3 linked regions of the Homo sapiens genome follow. The protein of the gene in region 1 interacts with the protein of each later gene in a biochemical or structural test. Each region holds a gene or a part of one and is shown on either strand. Other genes may lie near its edges.

The links.
Region 2: of the proteins of PRKAB1 (region 1) and MAP3K7, one has a biochemical effect on the other in vitro, tested with the Homo sapiens proteins (one study listed by BioGRID).
Region 3: of the proteins of PRKAB1 (region 1) and HDAC5, one has a biochemical effect on the other in vitro, tested with the Homo sapiens proteins (one study listed by BioGRID).

Annotation. Positions count from the first base shown.
Region 1 is NC_000012.12:119,678,050-119,682,185, reverse strand, and holds the end of PRKAB1 (5'-AMP-activated protein kinase subunit beta-1), read right to left. Parts: intron 2,254-4,136; coding exon 2,185-2,253; intron 1,939-2,184; coding exon 1,861-1,938; 3' UTR 567-1,860; downstream 1-566. UniProt on the Homo sapiens protein: Non-catalytic subunit of AMP-activated protein kinase (AMPK), an energy sensor protein kinase that plays a key role in regulating cellular energy metabolism.
Region 2 is NC_000006.12:90,517,573-90,521,221, forward strand, and holds part of MAP3K7 (mitogen-activated protein kinase kinase kinase 7), read right to left. Parts: intron 1,748-3,649; coding exon 1,686-1,747; intron 991-1,685; coding exon 875-990; intron 1-874. UniProt on the Homo sapiens protein: Serine/threonine kinase which acts as an essential component of the MAP kinase signal transduction pathway. Plays an important role in the cascades of cellular responses evoked by changes in the environment.
Region 3 is NC_000017.11:44,117,051-44,120,699, forward strand, and holds part of HDAC5 (histone deacetylase 5), read right to left. Parts: intron 3,546-3,649; exon of another isoform or gene 3,388-3,545; intron 3,054-3,387; exon of another isoform or gene 2,937-3,053; intron 655-2,936; 5' UTR 466-654; coding exon 444-465; intron 1-443. UniProt on the Homo sapiens protein: Responsible for the deacetylation of lysine residues on the N-terminal part of the core histones (H2A, H2B, H3 and H4).

The sequences.
Region 1 (4,136 bases):
AGTCTTATTTTACATAGCATTTTCAGCTTGGGTTTTCTGCACCAGTGGGTAGAGCTCATTAGCATGCTTTTCTGCTAAATTTAAAATGTTTCCTGATACCTGAGAAGGCTTAAAGGAACACCCATAACCTTCCACCTTTTTGGAGGAGGGACACGGCCTCTTTTAGTGGATGAAAACAGCTCTGACTCCACAACGTCCTGCTCTCTCACACGCCAGGGTCACGATCCCAGGCTGTCCCACCGGGCTTGTTTAGGAGCAAAAGGAAACAAACCCTCTGGCCTGGGGACACCAACAACTGGCCGAAGCCAGGAGCCTCTGCTGTTACCCCTCTTCAGCTTCCCCTTGTGACTTGAGCTGTTCAGAGGGGCTCAGTTTTAGGGGTCCCTTAAGGTTCCAAACTGTGTGAATGGGTGTGAGTCACAGGACTGGTTCTCAGGCCTGGGCAGCTGGAGTAGCCCTGTCCGCTCAGAGCCACAAGAACGGTACTGAAACGCAACTCTCGAAGAGTTCCAGTCTCTTCTCCAAGGGACTGAATAAAATCAGAGCTCCTCCAGGCACATGTCCAATTATTTTTACAAAGTTTTATTGAAACTTGTCCATCAAGGTGACAGTAATTCACTGTTTTGAAAAGTCACAAAAAAGGGTACCCCCAAACTCAGGTATACCAAGTAAATACTGGAACCCAGGGAGCTCACTCCTCCCTCTCCCACCAGGAGCAAAGGGCATAACGGGAGCTTCCGCTGACTCACAGCAACCTGGGCTAGTGGGTACATCTGTGGCGACTCCCGGGAAACTGAGCTGCGTATAAAGAAGTCTGCTTTGGTCCAAAGGACATCTTCCTGACCCAGACTCAGAAGGCTGCTGTCAAGTTCTACATTCCTTTCAGAATAAGCAACAGCAACTGCTGCAGTCTTGCTAACTAGGGGCAGAGGTCCTGAGCAAGGTGCCACGGGACCTTGTAAAATCACGCTGTGTGATTTTATAGGGAAGAGGGCAGAGTGCCTCTCAAGTTTTCACGGTTAACACTGTCACCTATTATGACTGGAATAAAAAGCTGGACAACCTGCCAGCTAACTGGTCAGTCCTGAGGATCATCCAGCTGAATGGAGAAATCCGGCAGCAGGTTGAAAAGTCTGTTCTGAGAACAGATTATTGCTGAGCAGAGTTCATGTGACTTCTAGACGTGGTGACTTAAAAAATGGCCTTAAGGCTGCAGAGCCAGCCACCTCTGCTTACAAAAAGAGTACTTAGTGCACATGACTGTAAGAAACAATTGTAAAACCTCATCTAGAAATCAGAAAGCTTCTAATTTCTATAGAAATGACACCTCCCTGGAGCCGAGAGACAATCTGTTGTTGATTTTGAAGGACAGGCAAGACCAACACTGTATTTAGTTCCATAGCCAGGCCTCAACAGGGACAAGTGGCTGGCCTTAAAAACACACAGATGACTGGAAATGATGTGTGGCCTCAGTCCCTGTTTCCCAGAATTTTACTGGCAAAGGAGTTAGCATTCATTTTTGGCTTAAGAAAAATCGAGAATGTAGGTTTAGAACTGCACCCAGCCTCATGCACCGCGGGGCCAGGGCTGCAGATCCTCTGCCACCCCTCCCTCTTTTCTTGGACTTGATGAGTCCCCGAGGCTCAAAGCCATGGGGGTGCTAGGAGGACTGTCACAGACCGAGGCGCTGCAGGAGCTGCTCTGCCTGGACAAACCTTCAAGCAGGACCAGGGCAGGTATGAAATGTCTTCTGAAGAGTGTGAAATGAGCAATGTACAGTCCATTCCCTCTTGGGGAAAGCATGCACGTGTGGAGCCTGGTGGTGTGCTGTCTCCTGGGCCACCATCCGCCCCCAGCTCTTCATATGGGCTTGTATAACAAGGTGGTGACGTACTTCTTCTTGTACCGGTGGGTTGCGCTGAGCACCATCACTCCATCCTAAGGAACAAGGTGGAAATGATCAAAGGCTGGACTAAGGGGCTCAAGCCTCAGAGGACATGAGAATCATTAAGGGCTTCATAAAACCACAAATTCCCGGGCCAGCTTCAGAACCTGAGCCTGATGGCCTGTGCCAGACCCTGGAAGCTGCCCTTTAAGTCAGTCCCGCCAGGTCATTCCACTGCTGGGGGTCCTCAGAGCACACACTGGGCAACACAGCTCTCATGGGGACAGACATGTCATTACCTTGATAGACAGCGCGTATAGGTGGTTCAGCATGACGTGATTGGGCTCAGGAAGCAAAGCTGGATCACACTGTGAGGGAACAAAGGCAGCGGTGAGCATTTGGGATTTGGAAACCAAGATTCTCCCCTTTACTTCCCAGTGCCAGATATCAAAGGACAGGAGGCAGCGCTCAGGCCGACCTCTCTTCCCAAATCAGGCAGCGCAAGGGCTTGTCCAAGACGACAGGTGAGATGAAGGTCACGCCTTCTGACCTGAAGGGAGCTCCCTGCATGCCTGCTGGAGGCATCGGTGTGTGTCTCTGGCCAGGCATTTACCCCGGCCTCTTTCAAGTGTGGGCCACGGCCCTGTCCTCTTATGGAGGGTGGGGCAGGAAGAAAGCAGCTATTAACAGCACTTTCAGAGAACACAGGAAGAGACCATCTGCACTAAACGCTCCTGAGCAATGGATTCAAAACTTGTATCTGTAAGACTCAATGAACCTGAAGAATGAAACGGATACCTGGGCAAGACACCACTACTCTGGAAAATCTGCCACCGGGCTGGCACTCAGAGCTGCCCGCCGCACCTTCCTATGTTTTAAGAGAAGCCAGAAATCGGGATTTATTTTTTCATTGTATACCCCCAACTGTTATAAATGCAATTCAAATGGAAAAAAGTGTAGAACAACTGCTGTAGGCTTAGGATCCCAGAGGCTGGGCCAATCATTGTGTCAACAAATACTCAGCAAGCTCCCGCTGGGAGGCCATTCAGGGTGGCTGCTGAGAGCACCAACTACCAAGGATCTGGCACCAGCCAAGCCTGATGTGACTGCTGGCTCAGCCAGTTGCTGTGTGAGCCTAAGAGGGGTTTTTAAAAAATTAATCAATTTCAAAGATTGACAGATAAAATTATGTATATTTACCATGTACAATATGTTGTTTTGAAATATGGACACATTGTGGAATGGCTAAATCAAGCTCATCAACACACGCAGAACATGCTTACCATGTTTTTGTGGTGAGAACACTTAAAAGCTACTTTTAGTGCACTGCTGATGGGCATGTAAATTAGTACAACCATTATGGAAAATGGCATGAAGGTTCCTAAAAAGTTATAACTAAAATTACCACATGGTCTAGCAATCCCACTACAGGGTAGATACTCCAAGGAAATGAAATCAGCATGTCGAGATATCTGTACTCCCACGTTCACTGCAGCTCTATTCATAATAGCCAAGACGTGGAATCAACGTAGGTGTCCACAATGGATGAATGGATAAAGAAATGAGGTACTGATACACAATGCAGTGCTGCTGAGCCTTACAAAAGGAATCTTGTCATCTGTGACAGCATGGATAAACCTGGAGGACATTAAGTGAAATGAGCCAGGCACAGAAAGACAAATCCCATGTGATGTCACTTATGTGGAATCCAAGAAAGTCGAACTCACAGAAGTAGAGAGTAGAGTGGTGGTTGCCAGCGGCTAGGAGTGGTGGGGGTAGGGAGATGCTGGTCAAAGAATACAACATTTCAGTTAGACAGGAGGAATACGTTCAAGAGATCCACTGTACAACACGGTGACTATTAGTAACAATGTATTCTTGAAAATCTCTAAGACAGTAGATTTTAAGTGTTCTCCCTACTGCTCTGTGCCTCAGTTTCCCCATCCCTAAAATGGGGGTAATAATTGCACCTACTTCACATGGTTGTTGTGAGGCTTGAATAAGAATACACGAAAAGCACTTAAGATTAGTTTGGGGCAAAATAAATGTTAACCCTTTAGTAGTGACAACTGTAACCACAGTTTACATTAGAGCTTAGTGCTACCTTGGACAGAGGGGTCCTGACATTCTCATATTCCCAGCCCCCTGGGCCACTCTCAGCTTGTCTATTCCCAGCAGCAGTCTCCATCAGAGAAGATGGCTAGTGATGCCTCCCTTTTCTAGAAAAAACAAAACCTGGCCAGGCACGGTG
Region 2 (3,649 bases), on another chromosome or scaffold:
TCAACATAAAAGTGCCAGCAGTTTGATAATTACTTCTACGATTTCCAAACTGTAGTATTTAATTTCCTATTTAGGCTTACCTTTCAAATACCAGGTTGGTTCCATTTAAATCACTGTATCAATAAATTATGATAAAACAATTTTTTCTCTCTTTTTTTTGAAGTACATACAGAAAGCTTTTCGCAAATTCAGAAAAAAACAACTTTCATTTATTTAGATTAAAATTAATGAAGGGAATCCTATTATCATACATATATAAAGTTGCCAAAATTTTTTCCTTATCACTTCATTTTAGTTACCACCAACAATTCAGTTACCTAAGTATAAAATTTCATGGAGGTCATGCTTAAGAAAACTGAAGATACATACATATTTAAGAACTGTGAATGCAGTAGTAAGGAAATTAGGCTGTGTTTCTTTAAAAAGGGAGGAAGGCAGTTTCTATAACTCCTCAGAAAAACACTCAGTTATGAAATACAGTCTTTTAATAAGTAATCCAATTCTAAACATACACCTGGAAAAAATGTATCTACAAAAATGTTTCTAAGATAAGGCACAACTGAATGTTAATAAATCAAATTATTTTATCTATTTACAAGAAAACAATAAATCTTTATAATAATAAGTCTAAACAGCTCTGAGAACATAAAACAACAAGTATAAAGCACCAGTTTATTTTCCATAGCACTAATATGATAGTCAAAAGGATTGAGTTTTGCATAAAAAATTTTTAGTAAAAGGGTGCTTAAAGCTTAAACAAGTTGAAAGTATACTTAATGACTAATTCTAAAAACTACGTTTTCATTGCACCTTATCATATTTTAAACTCAAAATACTAATGTATTTTTATTTTTATTCATAAAAAATAACTTACTTTCTCTGTAATAACAATGCAATTTCTGTTTGAACTTTCATATATTCTTGTGCCATTTTACAATGCTGTTCAAACACTGCCATAGATTCTTTGGAGTTTGGGCACGGTGCTAGAGGCTGAAAATAATCAGGAATGTTAAAACATAATTAAATCAAATTTCAATATCTAGCTAAGATGAGAGTCAAGACAGAGACTGTGATATATTTTTATAGCACTAAAGCAATGATCTTTTAAAAATAAGTGTTAAACCATGCCCTAGAAAATCTCAGTGTCCTTTTGTCAGAATTAACTCAGCATTTAAATCTATTCTTGCTGTTTTAACAGTCTGTTACAGAGAATCATGATTGTTGGAGTTGTAGTCTCTGGTATGACATTTCAGGCTGCAAACAGGCTCAAACTAAATGATGTTTATAGCCCTCATACTCATGAGGGGGCACTGAAGTATATTATTTACATTTTCAGTCACTATGAACATGAGAATGTATCACAAATGTATTAAATAGAAATAAGCTTATGAGTTTTGTTTTAATGCACTAAAATTAAAGAGTGAAAATGTAATGCTTAGCAGTACTAAAGAAAGATACTGGAGGATTTTAAGATGACTGAAAAGATAAGAATATGATTCTGCCAATTTAAAGTTTGATTAACTTAACCAAAAGAATTATTTTGATTTGATTCTAAAAAGTTTAAGGAGGCCAACTAAAAGGATAAATTAAGGAGTGACTATACAATGACAGGTAGCAACACAATTGTCAACTTAAACTCTCTAAGAAGAAAAAAGTCAACTTTCAATAAGAAAGTACTCCTTTACCTGTAGTTGGTGATCCAGTGTAAGATAAGCCATTGGGATGGAGTTATCTGATCCATTGGTATCTGGAATTCAAGCATGTATTTTATTGATTTTCTGTCACAAATAATTATAAACGAACAGCAAGAAAGCATGAATGAAATGCTTTTTTTCCCTAAAGTAAATAATATGTAAATTAAAAGTTACAGCTATTGGTAATTGAAGAGTCTATTTCTGAATTCTAAAGGTTAAAAAAAGGATATTCAATTATCAGATATTAGAATGCAATTATATTCTCATACCTATAATTTAAGTTGGCTATAAACTGAATAGAACACAATATATTAGAGCTTCTAAGCTCTTAATTAAAAACAAAAACAGTGATGAGACCTTTATATTTTAAATTCAGTCTTAATTGACCCTATCTAATCAAACTCCCCATCTCTTTTCTTTATCATGCTAAGTTTATTTTATAGAAGGCTATATCAACTCCGCTAATATCAATGTTCCTTAACAGGGAAAGGGAGAAAGCAGAGACACATTCTCTTCCAGTGGATCATTTTCAATTTATATAGATTATAATGTGACCTCCACCACTCATCCTGCCCTTCCCAGTAAGAATCACTGCAGAAAACGAGATGTTGGTGATGAGAGTATATTACAAATACGAACAGTAAGGAACCAAAATGAGGTTGAAACCTGTGGCTCAATGTCATGCCGAAAACAGTTAAGTTGATTAATTCAAACAATCAGTCAATTTTATAAAATTATTTGAATAGAATGCTTTTGTTTATATTTCAAAAGAGGTAAAACTGCCATACAACTTGACTGAGATGCGTGGGACAGTCTCTTCTCAACATTTATGGTTATGTAGAACAGTTCCAGAAGTAAACAGAGTAACTCTGAAGCAATACAGACTTTTCTACTTCAGAAGTAGTTGCTTTCCCACTGTTAGTAGACAAAAAAAGAGCTAAATGAGTGAGCTCTTCAGCCTTTTTCTGACGAATAACTCCTTGAAGGAGTGGTGTGGATAAAGGCAAGTCAGGAAGACAGCAGACGCACTGTATGCAATCCAAAAAAACTCAAGAAGGGTTGCTGGCTCAGTAATCTTCTAATTTATTGTCAACTGATAATCCAGGTGTTTTTTTTTCTTTTTGCTTTTGTTTTTGTTTTTTTAAAGCCACTGAGAACGTGCTCTCAAGAAACTCCAAAAGCTAATTAGCGAAATCAGACCAAATGAGCCAGTGCATGTGAGGAACACCATGCAAATCCTGGCGTATATTAAGCACTCAATACATGACGGTAGTTATCATTATTATTCATACTAAATGGAGAATTAGAAAGAACAATTTAAAATAGTATAGTATGAATTCCATATTGAAAAAGTAATGTTTATTAAATATTGCAGGGCAATACAGAAAAACAGTAGAGACTTAAGGCACTTACCCTTACCCTTAAGGCTCATATACAGTACTAACATAAATGTGTGTTTTTCTGAAGTGGCTAAACAAGAAATATACTTAATTTGTTATTTCTCTGACCAACTCTTCTCCCACCCCAACAGTGGTTTCAAACTACGCTCCCACATAAACACTGCTTTCCACAAAACTAAAACTGATTAAAAATGACTGATTTCCTCCTGATTTACTAGAAAAATTTAAGTGTCTTGAAAAAGTTTCAATTTAAGATTTCCATTCCTATTATTCTTTCTTAAATCACTGATACATTATATATCTCATTATATCAGCACCCTGTATCTGATATGTATTTTAGAATTAAGCTTAATACATCAGTGTTGCGTGGTATTCTGGGAGCAGAAAAAAAGTCCAAGGATTGTGTTATTCAAATAATTAAAGCCCTTGTATGGTGGGGAACTTAAGGTCCTTCATTGAATTTCATCTTCTCTCTAAAAAAAGAAGTGGGATTTCACTTTCTCACTTTACACTAAATTGATATTGAACTTCCAATCTCTACTAGCAATAATTGGT
Region 3 (3,649 bases), on another chromosome or scaffold:
AAAGTATGGAACACAAACATTCCACTAAGTAAAGAAGCCACCATCACGAAAAGGAAGCTGAGCATTCTGCTATAGTAAAGAAATTCCTCCAACATCATCCCAGACTGCCCAGAGAGATTAAGGGATACACACTGCCCCCTCAGGCCCACCTGTCTTGGCTAGCAGGGGAAGGCGAAGCTGGAGCTGAACACCCCTAAGTTGAGAGGGCAAGCATGGGGGGCAGAGTAGGACCCATTGCCTTCCCAGGACCAGACCGGACCATCGATCCCTCGATTCCCAGGTCTACCTCATGGGCCCTTTCTTGCAACACTTCTCCACTCCTTACCCCCTCATTCCCTTATAGCTCAGACAGTAAAGGTCAGCTGGCCTGGAAGGGAAACCCACACAGCCCATTGCATCCGAAGCTACCCCAGGGTGCTCTTCTCCAACCTCCCAGCTCTTACCCGACTCGTTGGGAGAGTTCATGCCGGCTCTGGGCCTGCAGGAAGCTGGCGTTGGGGGCTGGGACGGGAGGGGGTGGAGCTGCGGTGATGTCAAGAGAGACAGACGATAACAGACAGACGGACGGGACGGGAGCCCGGGGCCGCCGTGCCTCTAATGCCCATCCGAGGCCATCCTTCGGGGCGAGGCAGTCAGGCACTCAGAACGGCATCCCTGGGGAGAGATGGAGCAGGGTTAGAGGCCCCTAACTCAGGAATCTGAGAGTCGAAGGAGACCTTGGAGCTCATCAGTTTGTACCTGGGGATGAGGGATGAGAGGGAGGGATACCTGCCCACAGCCACAGGAGAAATCTGCAGAACTGGATAGACCCTGGTTTCTTATCTTACTAACTGATGAGGCTCCCAGAGCCCAAGGGATAGGAAATGGCTATGGTGGCCAAACCCAACAGACCCCTTTTCAGGTGAGTGTCTACTGCCAGCTGGGGAGACCCTATAGACTCCCAACAGTGCCTGCCATGGGACTAGGTGTGCACCAAAGGAGAAAGTGCAGGGGGGCTTCTGATCTGTATCCATAGCAGTGGGGAGATGCAGGGCTGATCTAGAGTCCCTGGCAGAAGTGAAGGGAGAAACTGGTATCCCAGCCTCCATAGCCTAAGCTGGGACTTCTAGGGGTCTTCTCCCGACTTTCTGATCCTTGTGCCACCCAGCTCTGGAAATATGGATGTGCTTCTGTTTTGGTCTCCCACAGTTCAACAACAGACCAGGACAAGAGCTTCTCTTTCCAGGAATTGAGAAAGTCAGAGACCTCTCCATCCCAAATCTAGTACCCTTGGCCTGGCAGGTGCAGGGCCCAAGCCCAGCACTTTGTGTATATTGTACAGGTTGTGCTCTGTGTAAGGAGGTCTGGCCCAGGGAGATACGAAATCCAGCCTGTGCCCTGCCTGCCAAGCCATGGCCTGACATGCTGAGTCCACCCAAAACAAGGGACGATTTTTTCCCAGTTTGTACGAAAGCAACAAAAGGCCCAGCAGTAGCCCTGCTGAGGCCAGTATAGTAAAGGAGGAGGTATTACAGGACCACGGCTTTGCCAACCCATGCCCACTCCTCCAGTTCTCCCCCACAGTTAGTCCTCAAGCCTCAGACACTATGCATACAGACACCTGGCCCATCCCTAAACGGCCCACGATCCACCCCAGACATGATCTCATTCATTTGCTTCCAAATGAAGGCAGGCCCTCCAATACCCAATGAAAGCAAGGTAGCAGGAAGCCATCAGAGGAGGCTGTGAGCTGCTGCGAGTTTAAGCCCTAACTCTGCTCCCCAAGCCTCGAACCAGCAATCAGCTCTGCCCCCCTAGACAGCCCCACCTCCTGGCAGGATTAATTCTCAGTAAGCCTTACATTCTCATCAGATTCCCAAGGGTGGGGTCCATTTGGAGCCCAGAAGCCCAGAAGCCAGCTATGGCAGAAACACAAGAACATGAACACACATGCGCATGCACGCACACATGCACACACGAGACCCTGAGGTCCCAGGCTTGCTGCTGGGACCACAGGGCTTGGACTCTATGGCTGGAGAAAGGTGCACTCAGATTGGGGGGCAGAGTTGAAGGGGCTAAATTGCTCCTGACGGGCACAGGTATGGGATTAAGACAAAAAAGGCTGCGCAGGCAGGGCTGAGGCCAAGCTCAGGAATGTGGCAGGTAGGGCTGCTGGTGCTCTGGCAGGGCCCACGTGGGCAGGCAGTTCAGCCTGTGCCCACACCAAGGCTGGCACCCAGTCCTGCTCACACCCTTTCCCGTGGGCTGGGGAACACAGGTTCAGAAATGCCCACGATTCCCAGCAGCCTGAGTAGCCCAGTCCATCTCCACAGTGAGAGGCACCTCCACAGCAAGGTGCTCAGAAGGGGCACAGCCCCAGTGGCACAGAAACCAGGTTAAGGTTAGCCCCTAGCCCCCATCATCCTAACCCACCTACTCTCTCTGTGGGTCTTAAAGATGCTGATCCTCACCCCTGAGGCAGAAGAGGAAGGGAGCAGCTCCTTGAACTCATGGTGGGCTCGGGACTCATCTACGTCTACTCCTCCCCGTCCTATAAAATTCAGCAGGATCCCTGGGCCCCTGGGCCCTGTCCACCTGTAAAGAGTGTCTGCCAACACCCCCATCAAGTCTCCCAAGTGAACCAGAGCCACAGGCTGAGCCTCCCTGAGAAACAAAGCAGTGTTCATGGTCTGATCGGGACAAGCACAGATTCCTGTCTGGGGTGGGACATGAAGGGGAGAAGGGGAGCCTGATGTTTAAAACCTGAGCTGTTTGTTCCCACATCTGCCAGAGAAATCTGTTGGGTCTCAGTGGGAAGTCAGGGACACCAGGAGCTGTGTCCCAGATGACCTAACACTTGGATGCCAAACCAGGGAGTGGCCCAACTTCCAGGACATCATAAGCAGACAGACCCCTGCCCACCCCACTACCTCACACCAACTCTTTCTTCCAGACAGACCCCTACCCCACTCCGGGATCCAAAACCACCTCCCACATCCAGCCAAGACAGCCGGACAAGGATGAAGGAAACAGGCTACATCTCACCCTACAAGCTCAGGGCTGAGCCTATGGAAGTAGGGTGGAAACCCCAAACTCTGGCAAAGGGTGGGTGGAGGAGGGCAGACAAGTGAGGGGCACATGGTACAAAGCAATGCTCCAAAGGCCATAGGTTCACAATGTTACCCTGTAGAGATCTTGTTCCTCAAACAACTCCCTCAAAATTCCTGGGGAGTCAGGTGTCCCTTGAAGACCCTCTCTGGATCCTGGAGTCCAGTACCACCATGCAACCCCCTCCCAACACACCTGCTCTGGCCCCAGGCCAGGGTACCCCCTAGGTCATAGGTGACAGGGTCAAGCAGTGTGAATCAAGTCTTGGGAGTCTGAGATTGTTTCACTCTACCCCGACAGTTTCATCAAAAATTACAAACCGGCCAGGCGCGGCGGCTCACGCCTGTAATCCCAGGACTTTGCGAGGCCAAGGCAGGCGGATCACCTGAGGTCAGGAGTTCCAGACCAGCCTGATCAACATGGAGAAACCCTTTCTCTACTAAAAAAATACAAAATTGGCCAGGTGTGGTGGCGCATGCCTGTAATCACAGCTACTCGGGAGGCTGAGGCAGGAGAATCACTCGAACCCTGGAGACAGAGGTGCGGTGAGCCAAGATTGTGT